Linked DNA regions of Homo sapiens. The protein of the gene in region 3 purifies or fractionates together with the protein of the main gene of each other region. This does not show direct contact. Each region holds a gene or a part of one and is shown on either strand. Other genes may lie near its edges. The genes, in order: SNX14, DHRS3, TLR5, DHRS7 and MAN1A2.

What was found.
Region 1: the proteins of TLR5 (region 3) and SNX14 purify together in Homo sapiens (affinity purification with mass spectrometry; 2 studies listed by BioGRID and IntAct, with this or other methods). This does not show direct contact.
Region 2: the proteins of TLR5 (region 3) and DHRS3 purify together in Homo sapiens (affinity purification with mass spectrometry; 2 studies listed by BioGRID and IntAct, with this or other methods). This does not show direct contact.
Region 4: the proteins of TLR5 (region 3) and DHRS7 purify together in Homo sapiens (affinity purification with mass spectrometry; 2 studies listed by BioGRID and IntAct, with this or other methods). This does not show direct contact.
Region 5: the proteins of TLR5 (region 3) and MAN1A2 purify together in Homo sapiens (affinity purification with mass spectrometry; 2 studies listed by BioGRID and IntAct, with this or other methods). This does not show direct contact.

The regions. Positions count from the first base shown.
Region 1 is NC_000006.12:85,541,800-85,545,411, forward strand, and holds part of SNX14 (sorting nexin-14), read right to left. Parts: intron 1,962-3,612; coding exon 1,806-1,961; intron 1,508-1,805; coding exon 1,383-1,507; intron 245-1,382; coding exon 186-244; intron 1-185. UniProt on the Homo sapiens protein: Plays a role in maintaining normal neuronal excitability and synaptic transmission. May be involved in several stages of intracellular trafficking. Required for autophagosome clearance, possibly by mediating the fusion of lysosomes with autophagosomes.
Region 2 is NC_000001.11:12,615,385-12,619,551, forward strand, and holds the start of DHRS3 (short-chain dehydrogenase/reductase 3), read right to left. Parts: upstream 2,827-4,167; 5' UTR 1,965-2,826; coding exon 1,770-1,964; intron 1,406-1,769; exon of another isoform or gene 1-1,405. UniProt on the Homo sapiens protein: Catalyzes the reduction of all-trans-retinal to all-trans-retinol in the presence of NADPH.
Region 3 is NC_000001.11:223,133,224-223,136,835, forward strand, and holds part of TLR5 (toll-like receptor 5 precursor), read right to left. Parts: intron 1,642-3,612; 5' UTR 1,459-1,641; intron 1,260-1,458; exon of another isoform or gene 1-1,259. UniProt on the Homo sapiens protein: Pattern recognition receptor (PRR) located on the cell surface that participates in the activation of innate immunity and inflammatory response.
Region 4 is NC_000014.9:60,158,827-60,162,438, forward strand, and holds part of DHRS7 (dehydrogenase/reductase SDR family member 7 isoform 1 precursor), read right to left. Parts: intron 1-3,612. UniProt on the Homo sapiens protein: NADPH-dependent oxidoreductase which catalyzes the reduction of a variety of compounds bearing carbonyl groups including steroids, retinoids and xenobiotics.
Region 5 is NC_000001.11:117,401,858-117,405,469, forward strand, and holds part of MAN1A2 (mannosyl-oligosaccharide 1,2-alpha-mannosidase IB), read left to right. Parts: intron 1-328; coding exon 329-584; intron 585-3,612. UniProt on the Homo sapiens protein: Involved in the maturation of Asn-linked oligosaccharides. Progressively trim alpha-1,2-linked mannose residues from Man(9)GlcNAc(2) to produce Man(5)GlcNAc(2).

The DNA.
Region 1 (3,612 bases), on a different chromosome or scaffold from region 3:
AAAGAATTTCAGGCATTTTCAGATCACCATATAGAATACAGTTCTACAATTCACTAGTAAAATGCCTTGTGAACTCATATAACAATGGAACCACATATTCATTCAGAAAAATAGCTAATAAAGACAATGATGCTATCATAGAATGACTGGCATCAGCAAGTTCAAAAACAAAACATACAACCTACCTGTTCAATTTTGAATTGCGTGTTGGTGATTCTGCACCTCTTAAAAGTTGTCTGAAATACTTTAAAATAACAAATAATAATTATCATTTATTACACTTACAATTAACATTAAAACATGTTACCTTAGTTTACTACTTTCCAGTTTTGGGAAAAAAAAAAAGCTATCTCAATCAAGTGAATACAGACATGGTCAACTAGGGTAAGGATGAAAATATTGCAAATGCAGATGATTTCCACAGGTTTGTAAATAACGTGTATACAATGAGATTTCTGCGTCACTGCAGTACTACAAAGCCACTCAGGCATATGGCAAACCAGGCAGACCTATTTGGTCCCAATCTATCTACTTACACAAATATAAACAGGTTTTGGTATTGATAATTGTTTTTGCAATTATTATTTTATTTATTCATTTATTTATTTATTTTGAGACAGAGTCTCGCTTTGTTGCCCAGGCTGGAGTGCAGTGGTGCGATCTCGGCTCACTGCAAGCTCCGCCTCCCGGGTTGATGCCATTCTCCTGCCTCAGCCTCCCAAGTAGCTGGGACTACAGGTGCCCGCCACCACGCCCAGCTAGTTTTTTGTATTTTTAGTAGAGAAGGGGTTTCAATGTGTTAGCCGGGACAGTCTTGATCTCCTGACCTTGTGATCCGCCCGCCTCGGCCTCCCAAAGTGCTGGGATTATAGGCCTGAGCCACCACACCCGGCCTTTGCAATTATTTTTTAATCTTCACTTAATTACATAGCGAAAAAGAATATTTACTTTCTTAATCTTGGTTTTTTTGTTCTGTTTTCTACTGAGACGGAGTCTTGCTCTATGGCCCAGGCTTGAGTTGTAGTGGTGTGATCTCAGCTTACTGCAACCTTGGCCTTCTGGGTTCAAGCTATTCTCCTGCCTCAGCCTCCTGAGTAACTGAGATTACAGGCATGTGCCACCACACCCAGCTAATTTTTTCTATTTTTAGTAGAGATGGAGTTTCACCATGTTGGCCAGGTTGGTCTTGAATGCCTGAACTCAATTGATTCAGCCATCTCAGCCTTCCAAAGTGCTGGGATTATAGGCGTGAGCAACTGTGCCCAGTAATCTTGTCTTATTTTTCTATTTATTTTGTTATTTGAATCACTCATCTAATGATATCAAAGCTACTATTAAATTATGTATAAAAATCCTCAAACAAGGTTAATATTTTGACTTACCTCATCACTATGGCAGAACATAGGAGTAAATACATTCTCCAAAAGGGAAAGAACATGTTCATATGCTTCAAAAAGACATCTCATAGTTTGAAGTTTCACAACATCTATGTATGGGCCTTCAGCAACTATTAAAAAAATTCTACTGTAGAAATTATTTATAAATAGCATAAATATATACAGTTCTAAAACGTTTTACTGAAACTCCACTGAAACACACTAGATTGAGAAATTAGACCAACCAAGCTCTAGTTCTGACAAATACATAAAGTATAAATAAGTTTTTTCTTTAAAGCTTTCATCTCATTAGTAAAATAGAATAATAGCTGCCCATGTACTGCAGCTAGCCACTGCAATAATAAACAGAAAATAAATGGAAAAACTGTAAGAGTGCTAAATAAGTCATTCTTATCGTCTTTGACTTACTTCTTTGAATCTCTTCTACAATGAAGGGATCAAATCTAATTTTGTCAATACTTTCATCCAAACAGTATGTTTTATAAATCTTCTGCAATTCTTCATGAAGAGACAGCATTTCATCATTTGATAATTCTGGTCGTAAAATTCTATCATTAAATTCCTCTAACAAATGAGGGAATGAATAAGAAAAAATAATTTTAATATATAATTATTCATAAAAGCTTCAGTCCCATTCTAATTGTAGCCAATACTAACAGCAGCAATTAGAAGCAATCTAATTCATCTAAGTTTTTAAAAAATATTTGAGAATAAAATAACTACTCAATAAAAGAGAAATGCAATCAACCAGTTTTTATACATTAATAGAAAATATGTAAATACATAAATACCAATACAAATTTTGCTAAAATTCAAAACACTAAACACACTTCTAATAGTTTCCTTAAAGAATATTGAATTTATTATACCAAAAGTCTTTTATTATTTTGAGATCTGATTTACTAAATAAAAATAAAAATGAAGACTTTTTTTAGTCCCAATCAATGTTTTTAAACAATATTTCTATCATGAACGCTGCAAACTAGTGGCAGAACTGAGTTTGAACAAATGAATGTTTATTCCAAAATAAAAGATGGTAGTATTATGATAGCCAAAATACCAATTGCTTTTTCTTTTTATTTCAGGATGTGTTAATAAGGAGTTTACCTTTTACTTCTTAATCATTCAAACTGAAACATAAAGGGGAAAAAAGGGAGTTAAAAAAAAAAAGCTGGAATACAGGATATAAGATTTGTGAGGCAACAGAATATAATTGCCATTCCTGTATGAGTTAACATGCATATAACTGGAGTTGTTAAAGAAGAGAAAATGGGGCAGGATATTTGAAAAGACAGCCAGGAATTTTCAAAATTGATTAAAGGTCAGGTGTGGTGGCTCATGCCTGTAATCCCAGCACTTTGGGAGGCTGAGGCAGGAGGATCGCTTGAGCCCAGGAGTTCAAGACCAGCCTAGGGAACATAGTGAGACTCAGTCTCTACAAAGAAATTAGCCAGGCATGGTGGTGTTCACCTGTAGTCCCAGCTACTTCGGAGGCTGAGGCAAGAGGATGAATGAGCTCAGGAAGTTGAGGCTGTATTTCGTGAGCCATGATCATGCCATCTTTTCAGACACACAAAAGCTAAGAAAATTTATCTCCAGCATATTTGTATTTTAAGAACTGTGAAAATGATTTCTTTCAGCAGAAAGAAACAATATTAGAAACCTGGTTCTGCAGAAAGAAATGAAGAGCACCGGGACAGTAAATATGCCAATAATTGTAAGAACCTTTAAAAATGAATGTGTGTGTGCATTCCACACATGTGTAGAAGCCTGATGACTAGTGAAGAAATAATGTACTGTGGTTTTATAGCCTATGCAGAATTAAAATACATGACAACAGGAGCACAATAGGCAGGAGAGGATGCTCTGAGGTACACTGAGGTTCTTACACTGCTCCTGAAGCAGTAAAATGTTTTTAAATTAGGACTATGATAAATGAAAAAGAAAATCTCTGATCAATCAAAAAAGTAACAGAACACACTCAAAAAAATAGGAAAGATAAAATACTAAAAAATAACCTCAAGAAAGGCAGCAAAGGAGAAAAAGAAAGGCAAAGAATATACAGGACAAATATAAAACAAACACCAAGATGTAAGGCCTAACAATAAACACATAATAAATATATCACGTGTAAATGTACTACAGATACCAATTAAAAAGCAAAGATTACTAAATTAGGTTTTTTTAAAGTGAGAGAAACTATGTGCTGCTTACT
Region 2 (4,167 bases), about 210 Mb from region 3:
GGATTCCCTGGAAGAGGACGTCCAGTCCAAGTTAGGTGGGGTTTGGTTCCCGGTGCGTGAACTTGCAGGCTCCACTCTGTACTATCACACCCACCCCCCAATGCCATACACTTCTTTCAATTTAGGATTGTTTATAGTCAGTCGAGTTTTTCCAGATTGACTAAGAGTTCCTCATCTGCCTACTGTAGTCAGCTACAAGAACAGTAAAAGAGACCCAGGACTTGGGCCAGCTGGAAGACTCAGAAAAAAGTTTCTGTGGGATGCAGACAGCTAAAGAATGACAATCACATGCAATTGTCCCAAACCCCACGTCCGCCCCAAAGGACACCCTCATCTGCCCTTTTCAGTCCCCTTCACAAAGAGCTTCAGGAGCCCTTTTATGGGGCATCGCCTCAAGGAAATGAAACTGCTGAGAACAACTCTGACTTCCCCTTATTCGTTGTGTCCAAGGGTTAAAAACGCTTCCCAACTCCCCCTCCAAATGCAAGGTCAAGCGGCTGTCCAAACCACCCAAGGAGAAGAGGGAGTCCTGGACAGCCAGACCCCTGCTAGCTTGGCCACCACAGGCTCCGGCCAGCCCGGCTAGGGAAGAGTTAATCGGATCGGCTTTGGCTGATAGTTCAGGCTCCAAAGTTCAGTCCCAGTCAGAGCCACCCCGGAGGAATTGTAAATCTCAGGGCAGTATTTAACAAAACAAAAGCAACCTGGAATTACATGCAGGTTTGGTTTTCTACAGTACATATTTACTTAATCCCCAAGGTATGCGGCTCCATGTCAGATCAGCTGGCTTTGCGGCCCTTTCACCCCCCTAGTTCACAACAGTTTAAGTTTCAAACTAATTCCCTGTTTTCGCTCTTCCTCTTCACAGGGCTGGCTGGAGACAGCCTGGCCTGCCTCCCTCTCCTGATGGCTCTGGTCACCGCGTGAGTCAGCCTGGCCTGGGCTGGGAGTTGGGTGACAGCCTGCCCACTCTCCCCACTCTGGCACCAGGTCTCCAAAACCTGGAGCAAGGGGTGCCAGGACCACCAAAAAGTTAAAGGCCGTGTTTGGTGGGCAGGACCCTCCTTGCAGCACCACCTTCCAGCTAAATGGGGAGGGATCCCTGGGGGGTGTACTGGGGGGGAGGGGACAGGGTTGAAGGTGAGAACAAGGGCTCTTTATCAGTAGCTGCTTACCCTGGCCTCCTCTTTCCTGCTTTCCAAACACCTGGGCCTCTCAGTGTCGGTCCGGCCAGACTACTGCATACAAGACCGCTCTTCCCTTTTCAAACCCAAACCAAGTACCCTCTCTCGTGTCTTCAGAGCTGCAGCCGCCCAGGTTGGGGCTGGGTAGCGGGTTGCCAAGGAAAATACGAGGCGCCAGCTAGCAGGCGGCTCCCAGCTCTACCCAGGAGTGCGCACACCCTGCACTCACCAGGGTGGCGGCAAGAAAAAGGGGGGAAGGCGGGGGAGGGGGGCACAACACCTTCCTTTGGGAGGCAGGAATGTGGGAAATGGTGGGTCTCTTAGGTTTCAGGGTGGGGGTGAATAGCCAGTCAGCCAGCCACCGATCCCAAAGGAGCGGATCAACTCTGAACCTGCCAAAAAAGACAGTCCGGTGCCCGGGAAATTTACAAGGTGAAACCGACTAGCTCAGCACTCGTGGGTGGCGCGGAGAAGTGGGGTGGCCGGCGACTCTCAGCTCCCGGGCGCGGGATCCCGCAGCGGCAGCAGGTGGGCTTACCCCCGCCCCTGCGGCCCCCCACTCCCTGGAGTCGCAGTGCCTGGTACCTTTCTGGCGCCGCGCTCCGCGAACTCGCGGGCGAGCTGACGCCCGATGCCTCTCCCGCCGCCGGTGATGAGGACGTTCTCCCGCGACAGGTCCCGCAGCTTGGCGGGCAGCACCAGTCCGACGGCTGCTTTCACCACCAGATAGATCATCTGTAGAGGGAACATCACCAGCGCGCCCAGCCGTTTCCACACCATCCTCCGCGCCGCGGAGCCGGGCAGGGGGCGAAACTCCCCGGGCCGAGCAATACAGGAATTAAAAAACACCCCGAACAATAAATAGTAAACCGAATAAGGAGGAGAGAGGCGTCCCACCTGGCCACTCTTGAAATCACCTCTTCCCAAATGCAAAGCACCGGGTGAGAAAAAGAAAAAAAAAAAAAAAAAAAAGATAAATTCTCCTCTGGGGGAGAAAAAGCGTCTCCTAAGGTTGGGACGGTAAAAGAGGTGGAGGGGGAAGCCGGAGGTGGAAAGTTCTAACAAGAAGTTTCTTGCCCCAGCAGCCGTTTCGGCTGGGGAATTCTCAGGTAATGTTTACAGACTGACAGAGGAGTTTAGGGAGGGGAAGAAAAAAAAAAAAAGGCACCAACCACACGCGCGCACCCTGCCTCGGTCCCGCGGTTTCAAAGTGCAAGATTAAAAAAAAAAAAAAAAAAAAAAAAAAAGCTGATTCCAAATTGTAGCGCCCCCACCCCCACCCCGTCTCCAGAAAAAAAAAAAAAAAAAAAGTGGGGGGAAAAAGTGCTTGGAGCTCCCAATTTCAGCCCGCGAAAGTCTCCCGACTCATTGCTATTCTTGGGCTCAGGAAATTGCTTAAACGCGATCTGATTGCCAGCAACGTGCAGGAGAAGTGGGGGGTCCGGGTGTCAGTTTCTTTACGTGCAGCGCTCGCCCTCGCGCGCGCTCGCTCGCTCCGGCTCCCTCCCTCCCTCTCTGTTCCAGCAGAGGCTGGGAGTTGCCGCTCGATCCAGCTCCCCTTCTCTCCCTTTTTAGCATTTATTGCCTTCTTTTTGTCCTTTCCAACTTGGAGAGGGTCCGGGTGTGGAGCGCGCGTGGATCGGACGCCTTGGTCTGCGCGGCCCTATTCATTCGCTCCCCGGGCAGCCGCGTCGCGGAGAGGGCGGCCCCTTTTTCCCCCATTTTTTCAATACCCCATTAAGTCTGATTGACAGTTAAAGTTGTTGGGAGGCTTCACTACCGTTCCTCTGAGTGGCTGCTGCGGCCTCCCCTCCCCCTGCGCCGTCGCGGGGAGCGCGCATAAGGCGCGCACTCGGGCTCGCCGGGACTCGCGCTCTCCCGGGACTGGCTCCCCTCTCTGCAAGCCGGGACTTGCCGCCGGTGTCCCTGAGGGCTCGCAGCTGTAACTCGAACACGCTGGAACCGACTCCGGCGAGCCGGCTGCCTTCTCGAGACGTTCCTCCTTGCCCGGGCCGCCCGCGGGCCAGGTGATCACCCCGAGTGTGGAGCAGGCCCGGGGGAGCTTGCGTATGCCTTGATCCAACCAGGTCACCCAGGGTTTTATTTCAGGTCATTTGGTCATCCTCGGCCTCCAGGTAGGATCAGGAAGCCACTCCTCACCTTTGCCCGGACCTCTTCTGTGTTCACGTAGAGTGGACTTTTAAAAGCCTGACCCAAGTGCCTCACGATGCTTAGGGGGAAGCCGCTGGGGAGCAGGACTTTGCTTTGAGGGGAGGGAGTAGTCAAGGTAAAGGAACCTCTGCTCCGAGTGCCAATAAAATCCCCACAAGATTAGCTGGGAGCATATTTATTGCTCATCTGAGCTAGAATTACCTTGACTGACACCAATTTCCTTAATAACAAAAGCCTGTAAACAAAACGTCCTATTCGTGCGCCCCTGTGCTGTGCAGCCAGCGTCTCCTGTCCTTGGGTCTCCCTGGACTGCCCTGGCGGGGCACCCACCTTCTAACCTCCTGCCCTTCCCGACCGGAATGTCTCCCCTGCTGGAGGGTGGGACCGAGCTATTTAGAGTTGTCTGTTGCAGGAAGTCTGGGAGGTGAGTCACTAAAAAGCAGCCCCAGTTCAAAGTGCTGATGGGACTTGCCTCCCGCCCCCCTGCACGTTCCCGGGGCCGGAGGAGCGAGAGCGAAGCAGGGAGCTGCCCTGTAATCTGGGGCAGCCGTTTCCAGCCCGCGACTTGTTCAGACGGCGATTCCTGGGCCTCACCCCCAGAGATTCTGATTCAGCAGGGCTGGGTGCGCTGGGATCGGTACTTTCAATGCTCCGCCTGGTGAGAAAGTCACTTCGAAAAACGCTGATCTGCGGGGAGGGGAGGCTGGGATTACCTCGTCACCTGCAAAGACCTAGTTCTGGGGAGAGGTTCTGCAGGGGAGGATCTTCCTTCTGGGTGAAAAGCCACTGGAAGAGCAAAAGGCAGGAGAGG
Region 3 (3,612 bases):
AGAGAGGTTAAGCACTTGTCTAAGATCTCACATTTATTACACTGTGGAGCTCGGATTTGAATCCCGCTGCAAACTTAGTTGTCACTGTGACCTTTGAACAAAACAAAATTGAATATGCTGCAAAACATCCACAGAGCCTCAAAGCGAGCTCGGAACCTGAAACGGCCCGCCTGAGACCTCCTTGAAACGGTGATTCTGATTCATCAGGGCTGTGGCTGAAGGACCTGAGAGTCTGCATTTCTAACGGGCTCCCACGTGATGCTGCTGCTGGTCCACTGACCACACTGTTAGCGGTGAGAACCTAAGAGTCTGTAATTGCCTCCCTGCTCATTACCCCCATGCCCACGTGAGCTGCCTCGTTCTTCCAGGATAAGGCATGGCTAAGATGCTGCACGATTGGTTTTGAGAAGGGGCTATACTAATACATTCACTTCCCCTTCCTCCCCATTTTTCTCAGCGCTGAAGAGTGAAGCATCAGAGAGTACCTCAAAGAAGATTCATGTGAGGCTTTGAGGAGGAGGGGATGGATGGGTCATATCGCTTTACTAGGAGCTAAGGAAACGGGACAGCTTGGGTGCGACTTCTGATTTCAGGAGATGCGCTTTCCCTAGAGACCAGCAGAGGGCGCAAAAGGGGCAGGGACCGAGGGGGAGGAGCCCGCGGAGCCGCGGCCGGAGAGTCGAGCGGGGCGCGGGGAGCTGCAAGCGTCCCTGAGCTGAGCTCCGCTGGGAAGTTCCTATCGCTTGCGCAGTAGAGTGCATTTAGACATTTCAATGACAACTAAATTTGTAGCTGGATTCAAATCCTAGCTCCACAGTTTAGTAGGTGTGTGAGCTTGGGCGAGTGCTGAACCTCTCTAAGCATCAGTTTACTGCCTATAAAATCACAGCAATAAGTTTCTACCTCCCACCCCCGCCGCCCCTACCCCGGCAGCAACAGCCTGCTTCCGGCTTCCAGGGATCCTCCAGTGCCCAAACCAGAATATCCAGTTACCCATGCTTAATACTCCAACAGTTCTTGCTTGCTGAAGTAGGCAGCCATCATTTACGCAACTACACCTTACCAGAAACGCCTTCCCTTTAGAACACTGAAGGGGAAAGTTAGAGAGGGAAAGGAAATTTCTCAAGGCACTGGGGTGATTTTGTGTTTCTTTAGCATGAGTTACCGGAAAGCTTCCTGTGTTTTCTTTACTATCTTTAGGTGGTGGTTCCCAGCATCAAAAAACAGCAAAAACAGCAGCAAGCAAAGGCGCTGATACTCTGAAAAGTTATGTTGAAAACACATGGTTTAGGTACAGAATGGCTTCCCCGTTGTTTGCACATTATAACTCTTTAGCACACAATTTTAAAGCATCTGATTGAAAGAAATAATTTTTAGTGATTATTAAAAACGAACAACTAGCACAACATTTAAAATCGTCGGGAAAAGGTGGCTCGCCCAGAAAGTGAACATCCCTACCTGTCTCCAGGTTCGGACAGCGCCAACATTCTCAATTAGAAAATTAACATCTGAGGCTCCGACATCTTCCCTGGATGCTAAATCCTGTGTATTGATGGGCAAAGTCAATTGCCAGGAAAGCTGGGCAACTATAAGGTCAGGGGGCTGGAGCAGATGAGAGTAGGGAAGTCCAGTATAGCATCCCTGAAAGTAATGACACAGACAATCTGCTAAGCGCTGCAAAAATCATTTGGAGTGTGATGTAAATTGGAAACAGCTGGGGTGGGGGTGGTGACCGGCAACTAGGAACCCTATTAACCTGATCAGTTAGATACGAAATGGGAATGTGAAGAGAGAGTATCAAACACTTGAGAACTGTTCTGAGAGGGATGTGTAGTCTGTGCTGGGCTAGCAAAGGAATCAAGAGAAAGCTTCCCAGGCAGATAAAATCCAATGCACCCTGCAGCTGCTGGAGACACCCCCTGATGCAAGGTAAGCCCTGAAGAGGTTGAGAAGGAAAGGTGGGGGGCACTCAGGCCAGGATGAGGATGCCCTGAGAGGAAGATGATTTCACTGGTGTTGCCTGAGGGACTGTAAGCAGGGACAGGTGAGGCTGGGGAGCGCACCCCTGCTGGAAGCACAGGTCCCCACCCTGTGCCCAGTGTCCTGGGACCCGAAGGAGGTTTACTGCATGTGGAATCTGCCTGGGCAGGCTGCCCAGGGTGGCTATGCTCCATTCTGAGTCAGGGCAGGGAGTCAGCTAGTTGATTTGGCTCCAACTTGCTAGTGGTGGTTACTTTCGAGATACATGAGACCATGGCAAAAATGCTGGGCTGGGAGAGGATAAATATCGGTTCTAGTCCTCCTTCAGCCACAGTCTGGGTATCCTAGACAACTCTAACTTTCATTGTCCTCAGTTTCTGCATATGTATAACGGTGAGTTTGAAATGGAAGCATTTTTAAATCCTTGTTAACTCTGAAGTTATCTAAGGAAACTTGCTGAGTATCATCATGACAGCAATCATAGACCAGGGCCAATCCTCCCTGAAGCAGAACATTCCTTCTTCATTCTGGCAAATTTGCAAGGCTGTTACACCGGATCTTGAAGATACATAGTGGAAAATGATGTTATTAATGTACCGATGAAAAAAATGGAACCACATATATCCTAGCTTTAAATAGCAACTTTTTCCCCCCTCAAGAAATTACCCTCAGAGGAGCTTATGTCTGCGGCTAGATATTTTGAGATTTGACTTTTTTTTCCCCCTCTCCTTGTATTTCTGCTTTCCTAGGCTCACCTCCACCTCTGTAGCCAGCTCCCTAGTCATTGGTCCAGGGCAGGTATATGTCAGAACCCTACCAGGAATAGCCTGCAAGTTCTTCTGGCTTTGATTTTCCAAACAGGGCCTTAGGTTGGGGACACAAAGTCTTTGCCAAGTTGGGGGAAGAGGGGTGGGGTGTGCTGATGGGTAAAGCAGAGAGACATGCTTCTAGAAACAGGAAGACAGGAAGGGAAAAGGGGTCTGTCAGCACCAGGAAGACAGGACTCTGGCAGGACCCCAGTGAGTTAGCTATGTGGTCTGGAAGCAGTGAGGACTTGCTAGGCAAGACAGGCACAAGAGTGCCTTCAGTGGTAACCCGAGTGGACCAGATGGGGGAGCAGGAGATACCTGCACCCGAGCCCCTGGGATCTTGGCAATGCATAAGAGATCTGAAATTGTGACACAGTGACACAACCTGGGGTGATTTCTATGGTTGCTGGCCAGATGAGATGAAGGCTCTAAACTAATATTAATATCTAGAAAATAGAGGAGAGGCAGTATTTCTTGCACATCTGTGCATGCTAGAGATTCACACTCACTACCCTTTTGGTTCACAGGTTGGGAAATAAAAGAAAAGGTAGTCTTGAAGCTATCTGAACCCAGTTATATCTCTGACCAAGATGAGGAGGAATCTCAGACCCCAGAAACTCAGGACTAAAAGTGACTTCTGATTTTGCCTTTATCATGGTCTTCTGAGTTCAAATCCAGACAGTTTCCCTGACTGTAAAATGGGATGGTTATGAAGAGTAAATGAGATGGGACATATAGCTTATATTTTTTGGTCCCTTGCAATACTTTGCATGTGGCAGATTGCTTGTTGACTATCAAATTATTTATTGACTGTTTTTTAAAT
Region 4 (3,612 bases), on a different chromosome or scaffold from region 3:
CAGCTCCTTTTTTGGGAAAGTCTAATCATTCCAGGGATCTTTTTTATACTGATATGATAAGCTTTTAAATGCTATCAACCAGTAGCAGTGGGCAGTAATCCTGCCTTGTGGTTTGACAAAGAAGAAATCAAACTTCTGGTGTCGGTGGGTCCAAGTGTCCAGCCTGAGGCATCCTCCCCATCCCTTCCTCTCCCAGCACCTCAAACATTCATCAAGGATTTTGTATCCAAGGCCCAAAAGTTTGTTACCCAAGACGACAAATATTGACATGGATGCAGTTGATGCTGAAAATCATTTGGAATTGGAGGGAAAAACACAGCTTATTAATCAAGTGTTGGAACCCCAACATACACTTCAAGATCTCCCTGTCAGAGGAGATGCGGTTACGGAAGAAAATCTCAAGCTAAAATCAGAAAACCAAGTTTCTTAGACAATACACAGAAAATTTCATGTCAGCTTCTAGTGTTTTTCAAACAACTGACACAAAAAGCAAAAGAAAATACAGAATTGAAGCCCTTCTGTTTTATGGAATTGCTGCTGACCTTTCTTTATATGTTGGACAGATTTCAAAAGTGATAGTACCTTTGTTTGTGGTTTCATTGAATATTTATGAAGCTAATGTCAGATGTAGGCAACATTCATAGCATAACAGGAAACTTCCATAAGTTTGTGTATTATGTTAGTCTATGAGAATGTGCAAATGTATTGGAAACTTAATTTAGAATAGCACATATTTATGAAACTTAAGATGAATGTTTTATCAAATTTGCTCTGATTTGTGGGTTTAGCCCTGTCTTTTATTATAGGCTTAGTAAGATATACAAGAAAATAACCATCATGCTGTGAAAAAGTGACCCCAATCAGGTACTGACTGCACAGATTCATGTACCCTATCCATCTTCTTGGGCCCCTTCTCCACTGGCTTCTTCCTTCCTATCTCCCCTCCCCCAGGGAAAAACTGGTTTCATATTTGTAAAAGCAATTTTAATACTTAATCATCTCTGAGAGTAACCTGAACTTTAATTGTCAAAACTTAACCAAATGAAGACATTTTCTCAGCTAGAGCTTCTCATTTGTGATATTTAATACTAAGATAGAATTGCTGGTTTCTCTTTAATCAATTGAAAACAAAAAGAGACTATAAAAATGAAGATTTTTCATTGAAACTGAATTGTCAATCTGGGAAGATAATTTTTTGTTGTCAAAAACTTCTTTTTGGCCAGGTACAGTGGCTCACGCCTGTAATCCCAGCACTTTGGGAGGCCGAGGCAGGAGGATCACCTGAGATCAGGAGTTCAAGCCCAGCCTGGCCAACATGGCGAAACCCCATCTCTACTAAAAATACAAAAATTAGCTGGGCGTGGTGGTGGGTGCCTGTAATCCCAGCTACTTGGGAGGCTGAGGCAGGGAGAATTGCTTGAACCTCTAGGAGGTGGGGTTTGCAGTGAGCCTGCACTCCAGCCTGGGCAACAAAGTGAGACTCTATCTCAAAAAACAAAAAACAAAAAAAAAACTTCTTTTTTTTTTTTTTTTTTACAAAATTACCTACTTTGTATCTGAAAAGATATAAATTATGGTCGTGTGTGTTTAAAATAGAAAAGCTTAAGGGAAAATAGAAATAGGATGGAAAAGTACTTGGGAAAATACTAGTAACCAACTCCAAATATTTTCACTCCAGATTTTTGTTATCTCTGGCACAGAGTAGATCTTTTGGGAAATATATGAGAGTAGATTAAGCTCGACTAACCTGTTTTTTGGCGGGGGGACGGGGGGAGGGGACAAGGCCTGGCTCTGTCACCCAAGCTGGAGTGCAGTGGCATGATCTTGGCTCCCTGCAACCTCCACGGCTCAGGCTCAAGCCAACCTCCCACCTCAGCCTCCCAAGTAGCTGGGACTACAGGCGTGTACCATCATGCCCGGCTAATTTTTTTGTGTGTATTTTTTTGTAGATATGAGGTTTTGCCATGTTGCCTAGGCTGGTCTCGAACTTGTGAGCTCTAGCGATTTGCCCACCTCAGCCTCCCAAAGTGCTGGGATTACAGGCGTGAGCTACCGCATCTGGCCAACTTTGACTAATCTTATGTACCACATCTGGAAGAGAACAGTTACAAAGAGTTTGGTCTCAAGGTATATTTCTACTCAGCAGATTAACTTTTGCAAAATTCCTTAAGAATGTATTAGTATCAGAACTGTGAAAAATGGGAGTTTCAGATGTACACTTATTGATAATCTTGCTCAGTTTTATCCTGCTTGTTCTCCCAGAATTTTTTGTAAACTCAACTCCTCTGTTTACAGAGTTTTAGTCACTTTTAACAATTTTTTAAAATTCAGTTTGTAGACTCCATTTGTTAAGGGAATCAATATCAGAAGTAATACTAAAATGTTATAATAGGAAAAGGGATCCACTAATATAGCTTATGGTTATTAGAGCTGGGCTACCTTTAATCATGGAATAATCTTATGTATAGGTGTAAGAATGACTCACTATATGAATACATACTAATCATATTACAAACATTTTGCATCCCTTTTGTGACCTAGACAGACATTTAAATTGTGTTGCAATTCTGCTTTCTTGTTTTACAAAAAGCTGTTTCAGGAAGAAAAGAAAAGAAATGAAACCTGTCTTCTAAATGACAATCCCTCACAGCTGTTAGGGAAGACAGCCATTATGTCTTCCCTAAGTCCTTTCATCTCTTACCTTCTCTAAGGCTAAATAAACCTATCCAATTTCTGCCACCTTCCCTCACATGACATGGTATCAGGTTTCCTCACTCTTCTGCTCACACCCACCTGCACCAATTCTAGTTGGTTAATGTTCCTCTTTATTAAAGGGAGCTGGCTAGGGCAGGACACAGGATTCGGTAGGGTCTGGACAGTGCAGAGCAGGATGAGATGTCAAAAATCACTTCCCTTGTCCCCCAGAAGGTAGGGTCTATGAGGGCCTGGACTGTGGCTGATTCAGTCACTGCAGTGTCCCCAGTGCCCCAGCACAGAGGCCGGCACATACAAGCAGCTAGTCAGGAGACATCTGTTGTTTGCAGTTGTTGCTTCAGACACTGAGGTCTACAAATGCAACCCAAGGTTGCCTGATCTTTTCTGGCAGCCACTTCACAGTTGACTCCTATTGAGGTTACTGTTAACAAAAACCTGAGTTTTGCTCACATGTGCTGCTGTTGAAATTTTTCCTCCTCTAGACTTGTGCCATGGATTTTTCTGGACCATTTTAATGTCTAAAATTAGTCACCCTTAAATTTCACCATATGTGGCTGGGCTTGGCAGTTCACATCTGTTATCCTAGCACTTTGAGAGGCCAAGGTGGAAGGATCACTTGAGGCCAGGAGTTCAAGACCAGCCTGGAACATAGTGAGAGCCTGTTTCTACAAAAAGTTTAAAAATATCCAGGTGTGGTGGTTTGCACCTGTAGTCCTAGCTACTGGGGAGGCTGAGGTGGGAGGATTGCCTGAGCCCAGGAGTTCGAGGCTGCAGTGAGCTATGATCATGCCACTGCACTCCAGGCTGGGTGACAAAGCAAGACCTTGTCTCTCTATTAAAAAAAAAAAAAAATCACCATGTGAGATATATGCTTGGAAATGCACAGAATTTCTCTAG
Region 5 (3,612 bases), about 110 Mb from region 3:
CTTATTCTATTTTTGTTTTCTCTCCTCCATTTAGTTTTCACTGGTGTCTGTTTTTTGCAAGTGTCTATGGATAAGTTACTGTTATCTTTGCTCTTAGTCTGGAAATTGTATAAAGAGATTATAAACAGAGTTTGATCTTAGGCATCCAGGGTTCCTTTTCTTTCTCATTCCAGATCTGAATGTGTCTCACTGATAATTCTTTCCTTTTAATGGCAAAAGTAGAAAACAAGTTCCTGGGTTTAATGGAGAAACCTTTATGTTTTATATTTAAAGGTTGACATTCTTAAGTAGGCTCACTGTTACGTTTTATTTCCTTCTTTTCTCACAGGGAAGAGGAAGAACGTCTGAGAAATAAAATTCGAGCTGATCATGAGAAGGCCTTGGAAGAAGCAAAAGAAAAATTAAGAAAGTCAAGAGAGGAAATTCGAGCAGAAATTCAGACAGAGAAAAATAAGGTAGTCCAAGAAATGAAGATAAAAGAGAACAAGCCACTGCCACCAGTCCCTATTCCCAACCTTGTAGGAATACGTGGTGGAGACCCAGAAGATAATGACATAAGAGAGAAAAGGGAAAAAATTAAAGAGGTAATAAGCTGAGTTTTGTGATATGGAGTGTTTATGGATTTGTATTTGGATACAAACAAATATATATAATCTATGGTATCCTGTTTTGATCTGTTTATTCTTGGGTCATAGTTGTAGTATAGTTTCCAGGTTGGTAATAAGGACTAGAACTCTTTCTTGTTTTTTTTTTTAATGTTAATTATAATGTAATTATTGGACACTTAAAATATTTTTGATACAACTTTTGGATGGTTAGTGCCACTCATTCTTTGTTCAGAGATCTTTTGAAATTCAGCGTTTTATTAATAATATATCTGTATATAACTTATTGTCTAAGCAGTTTCTTAAATGTTCAGTTACAAAGGGACTCTGCTAGATACTATGCAGATCACCTCATAAACATGCTTCTAAAGAGCTAGCATTATATCTCCAATTTTTTAAGGAACATGTCATGGTATCCCTCAACTATACTGTAGATTAAGAACACATTCCTTCCAAAAAGTCTCCATGGATTGAAAAATGGGAAAGAATTGATTTCAAAATTCTTTAAATTTATTTAGCCTCAGAAGTCTTTCAATTTGTTATTCTGTAGTTACTTAAAAGTAAAGAGAATACCAGATGGGAAAAATCTAGTGAATATTTGGGTTAAACTTTGTTAATTAGAACTCCTAAAAATTCTGGGTGGAGTTTGTGATTATACTGCCTGTGAAGAAAAATATTTTATCAGAGTGTAATTGTACCAACAATATTTCAGAAGGTTTAATTATTATAAAGTAAGATAAATTTAGTTCAAGTAATCAAATATCTATTTGGATATATTCTAGTAATGGATATGGAAGGTATAGCAGATACTTTAAGCTTAGCCTTATGAATTATTATAAAACCTTGACCTTGATGGAGTAGAAATAGAGCTGTGCTCTGATTTTACCTCACCTCTAGAGTCTGTTTTATATGTAGACTACTTAAGGCACTTCCTTCGGACAGTGTTGGGAGAGACAGTGATAGATTTTTTTTCAGATGCCTGACTTGCTTTTTTTCAGATGTCATTACAATGTACTGAAATACTTTTTTCAAATACGTAATAATTCAGATAGATAACCATGTGTGTTCAGGGGACCCCCAGATGATCCTCAGGTTCAGTGACTCACCAGAAGTACCCACGGAACTCAGCATATAGAAACATGTTTTAGTTTGCTGAACTTTTATCCTGTTATTTTACTGAAGTTATTTATTCTTATAGCTTTTTTGTAGATTGCTTGTGATTTTTCTTATACGTAGTCATGTCTTCTGTGAAGAGATACTTTTACTTTTTCCTTCTTGATTTTTATACCTTTTATATTTTTTTTCTTGTCGTACTGCAGTGGCTAGGAGTTCTAATACATTGTTCAAAGTAAGTGGCGAGAATGGACATACTAGGTTTGTTCCCAACTTTAGGGGTTAAGCATCCAGTCTTTTGCCATTAACTATGTTGTGTCAACTGTAGGTTTTTTAAAGATGCTGTTTATTAGGTTGAGGATGTCTCCTTGTAATTGTAGTTTACTGAGAGTTTTATCATGAATGAGTGTTGAATTTTGTCAGATGCATTGTCTTCATTTTTCTCTAGATGACTGTATGATTTTTTTTCCTTTATTCTGTTAACATGGTAAATTACATTGTTTTTTGGATGTTAAATTAGTCTTATATTCCTGGGTTAAACTCCACTTTGTCGTGGTATGGTATCTGTCTTAGATGTTGCTAATTTTTCTTAAGGAATTTTGCATCTGTGTTCTTGAGATACATTGGTCTTGAGTTTTCTTGTAATATCTTTGCTTGATTTTGGTGTCTGATTAATGCTGGCTGCATAAAGCAAGTTGGGAAATGTTTAATGAATAGTATGCTGTTAAATGAATAGATTTTTGGTCTACTATTATATAATTCGTCTGATATATAATTAAATACTCTGCTATTGTATAACTCAGAACTCCTTGGGTTGTAAGACACTCAGCTCAAACTAAGTGATACAAATAGTATTTATTGGTTTAATGGCTCTAAACAAGGGCTTCAAGTTTGGCTGAATCCAAGCCTGTAGATATTATTGTGAGTGTTAAGCATCTGTCTCTCTTTCCTTTTGCTAGTTTCTCCATGCTGGCAGAGAGCCATTATCAGCTCCAGGATTATATATTACATAGACCATCAGATTGCAGAATAAAAAAGCCCTCTATCTCATGGTGTCAATAACAATATGTGTAAAAAGAACTTGATTGTTCCTACCTGAATCACATGTATCCACTCACTTTGTTTAGGGCAGGGGTTGACAGCTGCAACCTGTGGGCCAAATTCTGCTTGCTGTCTGTTTTTTAAAAATAAATTTTAGGCTGGGCATGGTGGCTCACACCTGTAATCCCAGCACTTTGGGAGGCCAAAGTGGGCGGATCATGAGGTCAGGAGATCAAGACCATTCTGGCTGACACGGTGAAACCCTGTCTCTACTAAAAATAACAAAAAATTAGCCAGGTGTGGTGGTGGGCACCTCTAGTCCCAGGAGGCTGAGGCAGGAGAATGGTGTGAACCCGGGAGGTGGAGCTTGCAGTGAGCTGAGCTGGTGTCACTGCATTCCAGCCTGGGTGACAGAGCGAGACTCCATCTCAAACAAAAAAAATAAATAAAATAAATTTTAATTTGAACACAACCATGTCCATTTACTTAGATATTATCTGGGACTGCTTTTATGCTGTAACAGCAGAGTTAGTTTGTTGATCTCTGGTCTAAGGATAGGGGATTTTCTAGCTAGGGTGAGTTAATTGGTGGTAGAAGCAGAGCCTCTTGATTGACAGCTCTGTTATATGTGAGGAAAGGAGAGCTGTCCCCAAAAAGACTTAACATTTCTCAAAAGGAAAGAATGCCAAACAAATATGTACCTCCTGAAGAAAGAAGACTTTTCTATTATGCCCATTTTTTTCCTGTCATATAGATGAGATTAAACATAGTTATGTATGTTTTCATACTGATACAAATGCTAATTGAATAATGTACTAATATAGATCTGGAAGAATGGGCAAGGATATAGTAA